2 separate regions of the Homo sapiens genome follow, and region 2 is linked to region 1. Evidence: fine-mapped expression QTL. A gene starts in region 1. The other region holds a variant in brackets. All regions are shown on one strand. Distances are between the middles of the regions.

Region 1 (5,372 bases):
TTTGCTGTTGTGCAGAGTTGGGTCCTTGGCCCCCTCATCTGGGCAGACGCCCACCAGCCAAGCTTAGATGGATGTGTACACCCAGAAAACTGGGGGGTGCCACCTCAGGACGGAGCAGGAGCAGCAGGATGTCATACGTTTCTGATGGGACACTACCGTGGTGGCCTTGAGCTCAGGCCCGGAGGCCAGGGCCCCTAGGGCCCTCTGCACAGTGCGGAAGTGAGGGCCACAGCCATTGTGGCCACTGAGCCTCTCCTTTTTGGGGGCTGCTCTTTAGCCTTTGATGGCTGCTAATGTTATGTGAATGATGCAACCCGCTGTAGGAATTCCTGACTGGCAAGAGTCATTCTGCCTCTGCAAGGCTAGGTGGGTCCTTCCCCATCCCCTCCAGGGCTGTGTGAACCAAAGGGTCCACGGGGACTTTCGGACTGCTCAGAGTCTGTGCAGAGTGGTATGTGTGTGCGCGTGTGTGTGGTGTGGTATGTGCAGAGTGATGTGTGCATGCATGTGTGTGTATGTGTGTGTACATGCATGTGCGTGTGTGTGTGTGTTCCAGTGAAGGGCTGGGGTCCAAATGCTCCTCACTTGCTAAGAGCAGCCTGTGATGCCACAGTGGTCTCTGATGCTGAGTGATGTCATCCCTCCTTGCCCGTCTGTTGTGCTGGCAGCCCTGTTACTGAGGATTTCTCCTGGACTAGCTCATCAGGGGCTGAGTAGTTAATTCCCAGGGCACCACAGAATCCTTTCTCCCAAGGCCCTGAGGACCACGTGCCCCTGCACTTCCCACAACCGTCCCCTGCCTGGGACTCTGTTTACATGTGGAGTTCCTGGGAAGGCCGGCCTGGTGCAGGCTCCTTGAGGGCCTAACTCCCATCCCCAAGCCCAGACAGTGACTTATGGAATTGGGGGGCAGTGGGGAGGAGGAGGGTGCAGGAAAGCGGGGGGAAGGAGGAGCCTCCAGTTGCCACTAAATGGTGACAATCCCACCCCACATTTCTTGAGTGTTGGCCATGTGCCAGCCCCTGTGCTGAATCTTGACGCTCAGTGTCTCATGTCACCTTCACAATAGTGGCGATGGTGGTTAGCCCATTCTACAGGAAGGGGAACTGAGGCACACAGAGCTTCTGAGCTCACGGTGGCCTCTCGGGGTCCTGTGGCTTTGTAACCTCTCCTGGTGCTCCTCAGTGTGATTCTGGGGCATGGGGCTCTCCAGAGGGCGTTTGTCAAACATGAGGATTTCTGGGCCTTGCCCAGGCTAAGGAGACAAAACTCTGGGCAAAGGCCCCGGAACCAGCATTTTACTCTGTGTGATCCGTCATTTCTAGGGTCCCTAGAAGTTTCTGATGAAACAGCTTCCAGCTAAGGAGCTGATTGCAGGACTAGGGAGTGGGAGCAGGTGAGGCACTGGGATTTGCATGTGGGCAGTGTGGGGGAGCAGGAGGCTGTGGCTGGGCATTCTTAACCCTTCCCTAAATTCCCTCCATCCTTGTCTATACCCCCACCCTTGGTACAGTGATGGGGGCAGAAGAACATTTGAACGGATAAGGGGGACAGTATTTGGGGCTGAGGACAATGGTGAGGAGAGGGTGGCCCAGGGAGGCAGGTGAGGAGTGGGGAGGTCCACCCCCAGGCTAGACTTTGGTGTGCTCTTTTTCAGAAGGCAGTGGGGGGGCCCCAAGGAAGGGTTTCGAGGGGGTGATGGTCGTTGGTGGCTGTGGGAGGATGGACTGGAGGGAGAATAGGGGGCTCTTGCCCAGTCCTGCAGGGCCGAGCGCCTGGACTCAGGGACTGGAGGCCCCGAAGGGAGCAGCGGGTGAGAGGGGCTGCGGAGGCTGCAATCATGGGCCTTGGGACAGAAGAAGAGGCCTGGAGCCTGGGAGGATGAACCGCACCGGGGCATGTCGACTTCAAGGGGCTGGTGGGCCGTCCCTGTCCTTGGAGGTGGGTCTGAATGGGGGGCAGGAGGAGCTGGAGGCCGCAGGGACACCGTGACGGCGTTAAGCTAAACTCAGCACGCTGGAGGGCGGGAATCACATGTGAGCCCCAGGTCTCTCGGGCTCCTCCTCTGCGGCTCTCTGAGGCTCAGTTTTCTCATCTGTAAAACGGGTTGTTGTGAGGGTTCCGTCAGATAACGCTGCTTGTGGAGGTGTCGCCTCCACGCTGCTTGTGGAGGTGTCGCCTCCAACGGCCGCGTCCTCCGCCAGTGCGGGAGGGGGCGCCGCCCGGGCTGCGGGGACTGCACTGCCCCCTGGCGGCGTTCCCGGCCGGACAGGCGGGGCGTCGGGGCGCGGGCTGGGGCCGCTGTCAGTCAGTCCACTGGCTCCCGCGCCGCGTCTGTGTCCGTCGCTCGGAGGGTGGAAGCCGGGGTCTCGCGGGCCGCGGGCCGCATGGTAGGTGCGCAGGCGCCGGCGTGGGCTAGGGCGCGGCAGCTGGGCCGGGGCTCGGTGCGGGCAGGGTCGTCCTAGGGCGGGAAGGGTCCGAGGGCTCCGTCGGGGTGCCCCCCGTCCCCGCCACCGGGGAGCCTCGCAACTTCTCGGGTCATTTGTGTCTTCCGGCCAGGGGCGCCGGGGGGCTGCGGGCTTGCGACCCTTCCTCGAGGACCAGGGCGCCTCCCTTGAACCCGGGCTGGCGCCTGCGCGTTCCCAACTGGTTCCCGAGGCTCCCGCGCTGCTGTGCAGCGGGGGTGAGGGCGGGCGGGAGGAAGGGTGTGGGGCTCAATAGAGGAGAGGGAACCCCAGAACTGGCAGTGCCAAGGGCGTCAAATATGGAGACTGAACAGTTCAGGTGACAGAAAACAGAAAAAAGAATCAACTTGTGGATGAAGCATTTGTAGTGTGTAGCCTTGACACTCCCTCACTTGACTCTCATAGTGACTGGGTCCCCAGAGCAAGGGGGTGATCCCCGTGCCCTTCCGTATGCCAGGCAGGCCCTGTGTTAATGTCTTTAATGGATTAAACTCCCTGGATCCTCCTAATAGGGAAACAGCCTCAGAGAGGTTACCTCGCTAAAGGTCACACAGCCTGGAACTGGGGAGGCTGGATTCGAATCCAGGCAGTTGCTTCCTGAGCGCTTGCTCTTGAAGACCCTGCAATACCAGGCATTGTGCCCATTTTACAGATGCCCAAACGAGTGCCTCATCTAGCATCATTGCTTGAAAGAGGAGACACCCAAGATCTGTCATTTACTCAAAGGTTCCAATAGATCATGAAATTTAAAATCAAAACCCCACGTGTTTTTTTTTTTTTAAATGTAGATTTTTACTTTTTCGTTGTTTGCTTTTTGTTTTTTTGAGACAAGGTCTTTCTCTGTTGCCCAGGCTGGAGTCCGGTGGCACAATCTCCGCTCACTGCAACCTCTGTCTCCTGGGTTCAAACAATTCTCCCGCCTCAGCCTCCCAAGTAGCTGGAATTACAGGCGTGTGCTACCACGCCCGGCTACTTTTTGTATTGTTAGTAGAGACGGGGTTTCACCATATTGGCCAGGCTGGTCTTGAACTCCTGATCTCAAGTGATCCGCCTGCCTCGACCAAAGTGTTGGGATTACAGGTGTGAGCCACTGCACCAAGCTTATTTTTACATCTCTGACTTGTGGATGGAAGAGTTTTTTCTTTCTCAGTGGTGCCTAAAATAATGGTCATCATAGCGCTAATGTCACCTTTGGCTTGATGAGTGAGGACAGAGCCAGCATTCCCTGAATGATCTTTCTGGGCATCTCTCCCCTCTGTTCCACAGACTCCTCTCTGCCTCAATTGCTCTGTCCTCCCTGGAGACCTGTACCCAGGGGGTGCAAGGAACCCCATGGCTTGCAATGGCAGTGCGGCCAGGGGGCACTTTGACCCTGAGGACTTGAACCTGACTGACGAGGCACTGAGACTCAAGTACCTGGGGCCCCAGCAGACAGAGCTGTTCATGCCCATCTGTGCCACATACCTGCTGATCTTCGTGGTGGGCGCTGTGGGCAATGGGCTGACCTGTCTGGTCATCCTGCGCCACAAGGCCATGCGCACGCCTACCAACTACTACCTCTTCAGCCTGGCCGTGTCGGACCTGCTGGTGCTGCTGGTGGGCCTGCCCCTGGAGCTCTATGAGATGTGGCACAACTACCCCTTCCTGCTGGGCGTTGGTGGCTGCTATTTCCGCACGCTACTGTTTGAGATGGTCTGCCTGGCCTCAGTGCTCAACGTCACTGCCCTGAGCGTGGAACGCTATGTGGCCGTGGTGCACCCACTCCAGGCCAGGTCCATGGTGACGCGGGCCCATGTGCGCCGAGTGCTTGGGGCCGTCTGGGGTCTTGCCATGCTCTGCTCCCTGCCCAACACCAGCCTGCACGGCATCCGGCAGCTGCACGTGCCCTGCCGGGGCCCAGTGCCAGACTCAGCTGTTTGCATGCTGGTCCGCCCACGGGCCCTCTACAACATGGTAGTGCAGACCACCGCGCTGCTCTTCTTCTGCCTGCCCATGGCCATCATGAGCGTGCTCTACCTGCTCATTGGGCTGCGACTGCGGCGGGAGAGGCTGCTGCTCATGCAGGAGGCCAAGGGCAGGGGCTCTGCAGCAGCCAGGTCCAGATACACCTGCAGGCTCCAGCAGCACGATCGGGGCCGGAGACAAGTGACCAAGATGCTGTGTAAGTGTCACGGCTGGGAAGAGGGGCTGAGCCAGGCACTGGGTATGAGTTTGGGGCTCCTGGGGCCTGGGAGAAGGGGCTGAGTATCTGGGTTTATGGGGGACGAGGAACTCCTCTAGTCTCGTGTGTGTGTGTGTGTGTGTGTGTGTCTGAGTTGCACTCCTGTGTACTCTTTTAGATTACCCTACTAGAATCTTACACCAAAAATACCTGTTAATGGCTAACGGTAAGATTGTGTAATTTGTGGAGTCCAGTGCAACATGAAAATTCAGGGTCCCTTTTTCAAAAATGAATAAGAATGTCAAGACAGCAACAACAGAGCATTAAACCAAGCCCAGGACCCTGCTAAACTTGGGGCCCTGGCTCTGGAACCAAAACACAGAAAGGGCAGGGCATGTGGTTGGGCTCCAGGATGACAGAAAATGGGATCTGGACCCTCCAGGTCTCAGGTCTCTCCTCTTCTTTTTTTTTTTTTTTTTTTTTTTGAGACAGGGTCTTGCTCTGTCACTCAGGCTGTGGTGTGACCACGGCTCACTGCAGCCTCAACCTCCCAGGCTCAAGCGATCCTCCTACCTCACTCAGCCTCCTAAGTAGCTGGGGCTACAGGCAGGTGCCACCATGCCCAGCTAATTTTTTCATTTTTGTAGAGACGGGGTCTCACTATGTTGCCAGAGCGGATCTTGAACTCCTGGTCTCAAGTGATCCTCCCACCTCAGCCTCCCAAAGTGCTGGGATTACAGGCATAA
Region 2 (5,372 bases), 270 kb before region 1:
TGCTCAGATTTCTTTTTCTCAAACTTAAATCCTTACCGCCACCTGCTGGCAGCACCAGGCTCTGCTCGTGCACACACCCACCCTCTGTGTTTAAATAACCAAAATTTAAAGAGTCTACACTGTTGTGTAACTACACGGTGTGCCTCAAACTTTAGCCAAGTGTCTACAATAGCTCTGTGCACACCCGCCTTTCTTTTGTCTGATGCTATTTATAATGAAAATAAACTTGAACAGTTCAAAATTCTAAAACAAGTATCATTCATCTTTGTTAATGACCTTGATACCAAAGATTAGGTAGTGTGGTTAGCCTCCCAACCTCATTTTGTACAGAGTTTGATTTATAGGGAAGAATAAACAGAAAGGAGAAAGCGGTTAGCCCTTCCTACTTTGTTCAGACCTCAATCCCAAGTCAGAGAAAAGGCCACCATCATCAAGAGGGTTGTTGCACAGCTTATTAGAAAAGCAGCAAGCTTATTTTCCTAATTGTCTTTGCTTTGGACTAATGTTAAATATAGTTAACACTTCCTTGCCCAGGCTGGTCTCGAACTCCTGGACTCACGCAATACTTCCTCCTCGGTCTCTCAAAGTGTTGGGATTACAGGTGTGAACCACTGCACCCAGCCTCATACTTCCTTGGCTAGTCGGATTAAACATGGTCTATGAATTGAACATCCACAGAGTATATGTATATAGGGTGGTGTGTGTGTGTATTCAAAAAAATTAGCTCAAGTTCATGAAAAGCAGAGTTCAGCAGTCCACTGACACACTTTTATGGTGTGCCAGAAATATTCAGTTCAACATTTGAGTACCTACTATGGGTTAGGCATGAGACAAGACGCTCGTCTTACAAATAGGACACAGGTTTTATTTTCAAGGAGTGCATATAACAGTATAGAGAATCACTCCAAATTTCACAAATCCCCCTTTGAAAGGCACCATCTACTCATCTCTTATGCTTCTTAGCTGGAATTACGGGTCCCACTCCGCCACTCTTAGACACCTGATTTTCAAAATTCATTAAGCATCATTAATACTTCAAACTCCATTCACACTAGAAAAGAACTTCCAATGCTAAGGAAAATCAGTGCAGGGCTCCAAATAAATTGTGAAGTGAGGTCACTTCATGTGTCAGGTTACAGGTACACAAATGCCCATAACGCAAAGGCTGGGGCCTACATCTGTCCAAGAAGCTAAAAGTTTCCTCAACAACCAGGTGTCACTAAAACCACACTTACATCCTCTTTACTTCACTTGCAGCTCATCTGCCAAATTTTATCCCTTTCTTCTTTCCGTATGAAACATGTCATGCATTTTACACATTTATAATATATATGTACAGTTCACAGAGAAAGAATAAAATGAAACTATGTGCCCACCACGCAACTTAAGAAGCAGAACACTCCCAGGGCCTTGAAGCCCCACATGCCCCTGCCCAGCTGTACCCCTCCCTCCACTCCACCTGGTAACTTACCACCATCCTTCTATCCATTTTTAAGATCCATCCCCAAACTCATTTTCTTTTGCTCTATAGCTGCAAAGTACATGTGTACTGAAACTACAACATTCTCTGTTCTCCAAGCCTGATTGATCACCCTATGCTGACCAGGAATCAGAAAAAAGAGACAGAACACCAAGAGCAGGAGCCGTGTCACACTCATCCCTGTAACCCAGCACCTAGCCCAGGCCCACTTGTTGGTGACTGCTTGTTTCATCTACACCAAGATTCGCAAAACAAAAACATAAACACTGCAAACGAATAAACAGGTATGCCTGGAGAGAGAAACAAATGTTCCTTTCCTTCCTTACCTCTGCTTCTACCTGCTGCTGAGTTCGGTTGTGGTTCTCTTTGTACTGGTTGGCTCTCAGAACTTGCTGCTCGATGCCCAGTAGAACTGCTTCACAGCCATCACACCTACAATGGAGAAAACCAGCCCTGAGCTGCAGAATGGCCTGGGAAGTCTCTTCCAGGCTCAGAAATATTCTTCCCCAACAGCTCTCCCCAGTATCTTACAGGGACCTCCTTTAATACTCCCTCTGCCACATCTCTTGCCCGTTCACTCCTTCCCAAAGACAAGCACTTCTAAATACATAATGCAGGACATTAGGAGACAAATATGGTAGTCTGGGGCTAGTTTCTTAGAATACAGCTTTAATTTTCAACTTTGTATCTCATGGAAGATGGTTTTGTAGCACATACGATTAAAGAAGGTAGGACAGGCCGGGTGCAGTGGCTCCCACCTGTAATCCCAGCTCTTTGAGAGGCCGAGGTGGGTGGATCACCAGGTCAGGAGTTCGAGACCAGCCTGGCCAACACAGTGAAACCCCATCTCTACTAAAAATACAAAAATTAGCCAGGTGTGGTGGCGGGTGCCTGTAATCCCAGCTACTTGGGAGGCTGAGGCAGGAGAATCACTTGAACCCGGGAGGCGGAGGTTGCAGTGAGCTGAGACCACGCAATTGCACTCCAGCCTGGGTGACAGAGCGAAACTCTGCCGCAAAAAAAAAAAAAAAAAAAAGAAGGTAGAATAGATTTTATAGATGGCACTGAGTAATCCTTTTCTCAACAGAAAAAAAAGATGTTCTAGGCCAGGCGCAGTGGCTCATGCCTGTAATCCCAGCACCTTGGGAGGCCGAGGCAGGCGGATCACCTGAGGTCGGGAATTCGAGACCAGCCTGACCAACATGGAGAAACCCCGTCTCTACTACAAATACAAAATTAGCCAGGCCTGGTGGCACACGCCTGTAATCCCAGCTACTAGGGAGGCTGAGGCAGGAGAATCGCTTGAACCTGGGAGGCAGAGGTTGCGGTGAGCTGAGATCGC[A/G]CTATTGCACTCCAGCCTGGGCAACAAGAGCAAAACTGTCTCAAAAAACAACAAACAAAAAAAGATTTCCTAAAAGCATCCTGTTTTGAAGATTCCGCCTTTTCTCAGAAGTTTAAGTTACTTCCTAATTGCCATACCCCTCCTCCTATTTTCCCCACTATTAATTTTTTTAAAAATGAAAAAGTTGAAAGACTACAATGAATATCCCCATACCCTCCACTTAAGATCCAACAGTGTGAGCATTTTGCCATATATGTGGTAGCCCTCAGCCTATGAATTTTGTTTCAATCTACCTCCAGTGCCTAAACATGAGTTGTAAGAGTTTCTACTAGTAAACATCCCATGGTAACCAGTTAGTCTGGCACCTCTATGTCAAACATATTGGGGGCTTAAAAACAGGAAACCAGACTATGGACATAAAAAGCTGTGTCAGCCATCTCAAAAACAGAATAGGACAGCCAACTTTGGCAGGTTCAGAAACTAGATTTTGTGTGCCAGACCATTTTTGTGTTGGGGTATTTCTAAGTTTATTTCTTATTTATTCTAAGTTTTGTAAGCTATTGAAAACTTCCACTTGTGGCAGATGTTGTATAGAGAAGGTGTTTGGGGCTATATTTGGGACAGAACTTGGGGTGAGGGGTGAGCAACACATGTCCTGGGGTGTAAAAGTAGCTGAAGTGAGGGAAACTCAGGGGACATCAGGCCCCAAGGAGTCAAAGTGGCACTGCTCCTCTCTGGATATGCTTCTCTCGGGGATGAGCAGAGATTCTCTCTCCCTCCCGAACCTGTGTACAAAGCTCACCGGGTCTGCTTCATGGCTTCCAACATGCCACGTGCCTGCCTGGGAACACACTCTCCTCACCTCCAGGTATACTCTAACCCTGGCCTTCCTTCAAAACTGAGCTAAAACTTCTCCAATCAGTCCATCTGGCTTTATAAGCCCCAAATAATTTAAATCACTCCACAGTGAATCCTCGTAGAATGTGAGACAGCTCTTACAAATATCAAATTCCATTAAAACAGAGAAAACACAAATGTCCCAATGCTTTTTATATACCAGAGTATAGTTATCAGATATTCTTTGTATGAGTCTGTATTCCAAGTTAAAATGACCCACTCCTTGTCTTCCATGTCCCTCACGGTGTTTTACAAACATTAGCCCAATATGTTACTGATTTTGAACGTAAGTTCTTTTATCCGAAGAATCTTATAAACATGTTAACTTCAACAGGGATAGAAAAAATAATAAAAACAAAGAAAGAATCTTACAAACACTAGCCTTCCTGAGTTTGGTCAAACTTTGAGCGTGAGTTTGGAAAGGGCAGGACTAGCCTCACACAGCTAGGACACATAGGCTCCACCTGCTAACCCTGGGCATTTTATAGCCCACTTTTAAATAGCTCCCAGTTGCATTTAAGGAAAGAACTATTTTACAACCAAGGCACCAGGAGGCCTGAAATGACTCCTGTTATCACACAGCTGTGATCACAAATGTAGCTCCACTCTCCGGCTCACTAAGCCCCAGCTCCCAGGTAGCTACAGGCCCACCCCAAACCCTCAGCTGACACCAGGGAATCACATTTTTGCAAGGAGAGGCACAAAAGACATGCTAGATATCCCCCTCCTCCTTTTAGCCTCACCATTCATGCAGGGTCTTGACAATATTATTGATATCCTTCTTTCGGATGTCACGGCCAATGCAGAAATCCACTTCCAGCAGCTGGTTTCGCTGGTCCAGCTTGCCCTGGATGATGTCAGTGTAGACAGCCTCAATGATAAGGTCTTCTAGTTCCCGGAGATTCCGCATCTCCAGGTCTTTCAGCAACACGGAGTAGGGGATACACTGTAGATAAGGCCATGTGATCATTATAAAAACCATCTGGCAAGCATTAGCGAAAATGCAGGTATTACTCCCATAGCCAACAGCTGCCTCTAGGCTCGGGAAACGCAGGCTAGTGGTAATTATTAATAGCTAGGGCAACAAGAGGTGGATAAATGAACCATGAGACCTAGAAGACCCAACATCTAAGAAAGCAACCTCCTGGTTCTCTGCCTCCTTGGCTTCACCCAGCCTTCAGATTTCACATGCTGCAGCATACTTGTAGAGATCCTAAAAACTTGTACCAGTGGAGAGAAAGGGAACTACTGAGTATATGCCACTCTGCCACCTTCTGGAAGCTTTCAGACTTTGCTAGATCACCATAAATCTCCAACAGATCCCAGTCACTGGAAAGAGCTGGCTACTTGCCCAGCAGAGTGCAAAAACAAACAAAAAAAACTTGCAGGCCAGCATATCTACCTATAGGTGGCCAATGGGTACTGCCAGCTCAGATGTCACCCTGAAGTTTGTATCTGTTTTCTCAGACACAACCAATATGAATTCCCCAACAATAGTTCTTTATTGGGCTGTACCAACATTCTTTACTACACTTGAGAAGTCCACAATCAGTACAAGAAAAAAGGTCAGGTCCTCATTTCACAACAAAATAGGCCTCCCACCTGAAATGCTAGGCTGAGAATCAGAAATGTGCCATTAGATCAGATAAAATG

The links. PIP is the estimated chance that this variant, and not a neighbour inherited with it, causes the effect.
Region 2: its variant is the best candidate, but not a certain one, in a credible set for the expression of NMUR1 in whole blood (TOPMed, PIP 0.59).

The regions. Positions count from the first base shown.
Region 1 is chr2:231,527,377-231,532,748 of GRCh38, reverse strand. NMUR1 (neuromedin U receptor 1) reads left to right here and starts at 2,304. Exons shown (of 3, transcript NM_006056.5): 1 at 2,304-2,390; 2 at 3,732-4,626. The coding sequence starts at 2,388. It overlaps LOC105376787 (a long non-coding RNA gene), which reads right to left and starts at 579. Exons shown (of 4, transcript XR_001739928.2): 1 at 1-579. RefSeq lists enhancers at 618-1,352, 3,842-4,368, 4,369-4,896 and a silencer at 2,047-2,476.
Region 2 is chr2:231,795,399-231,800,770 of GRCh38, reverse strand. It overlaps COPS7B (COP9 signalosome subunit 7B), which reads right to left. Exons shown (of 7, transcript NM_022730.4): 5 at 4,463-4,665; 6 at 1,807-1,912. Among named protein-coding and RNA genes, the nearest start is that of COPS7B, 12 kb to the right of the region's middle. The variant A/G (reference allele first, on the strand shown) is at 2,823.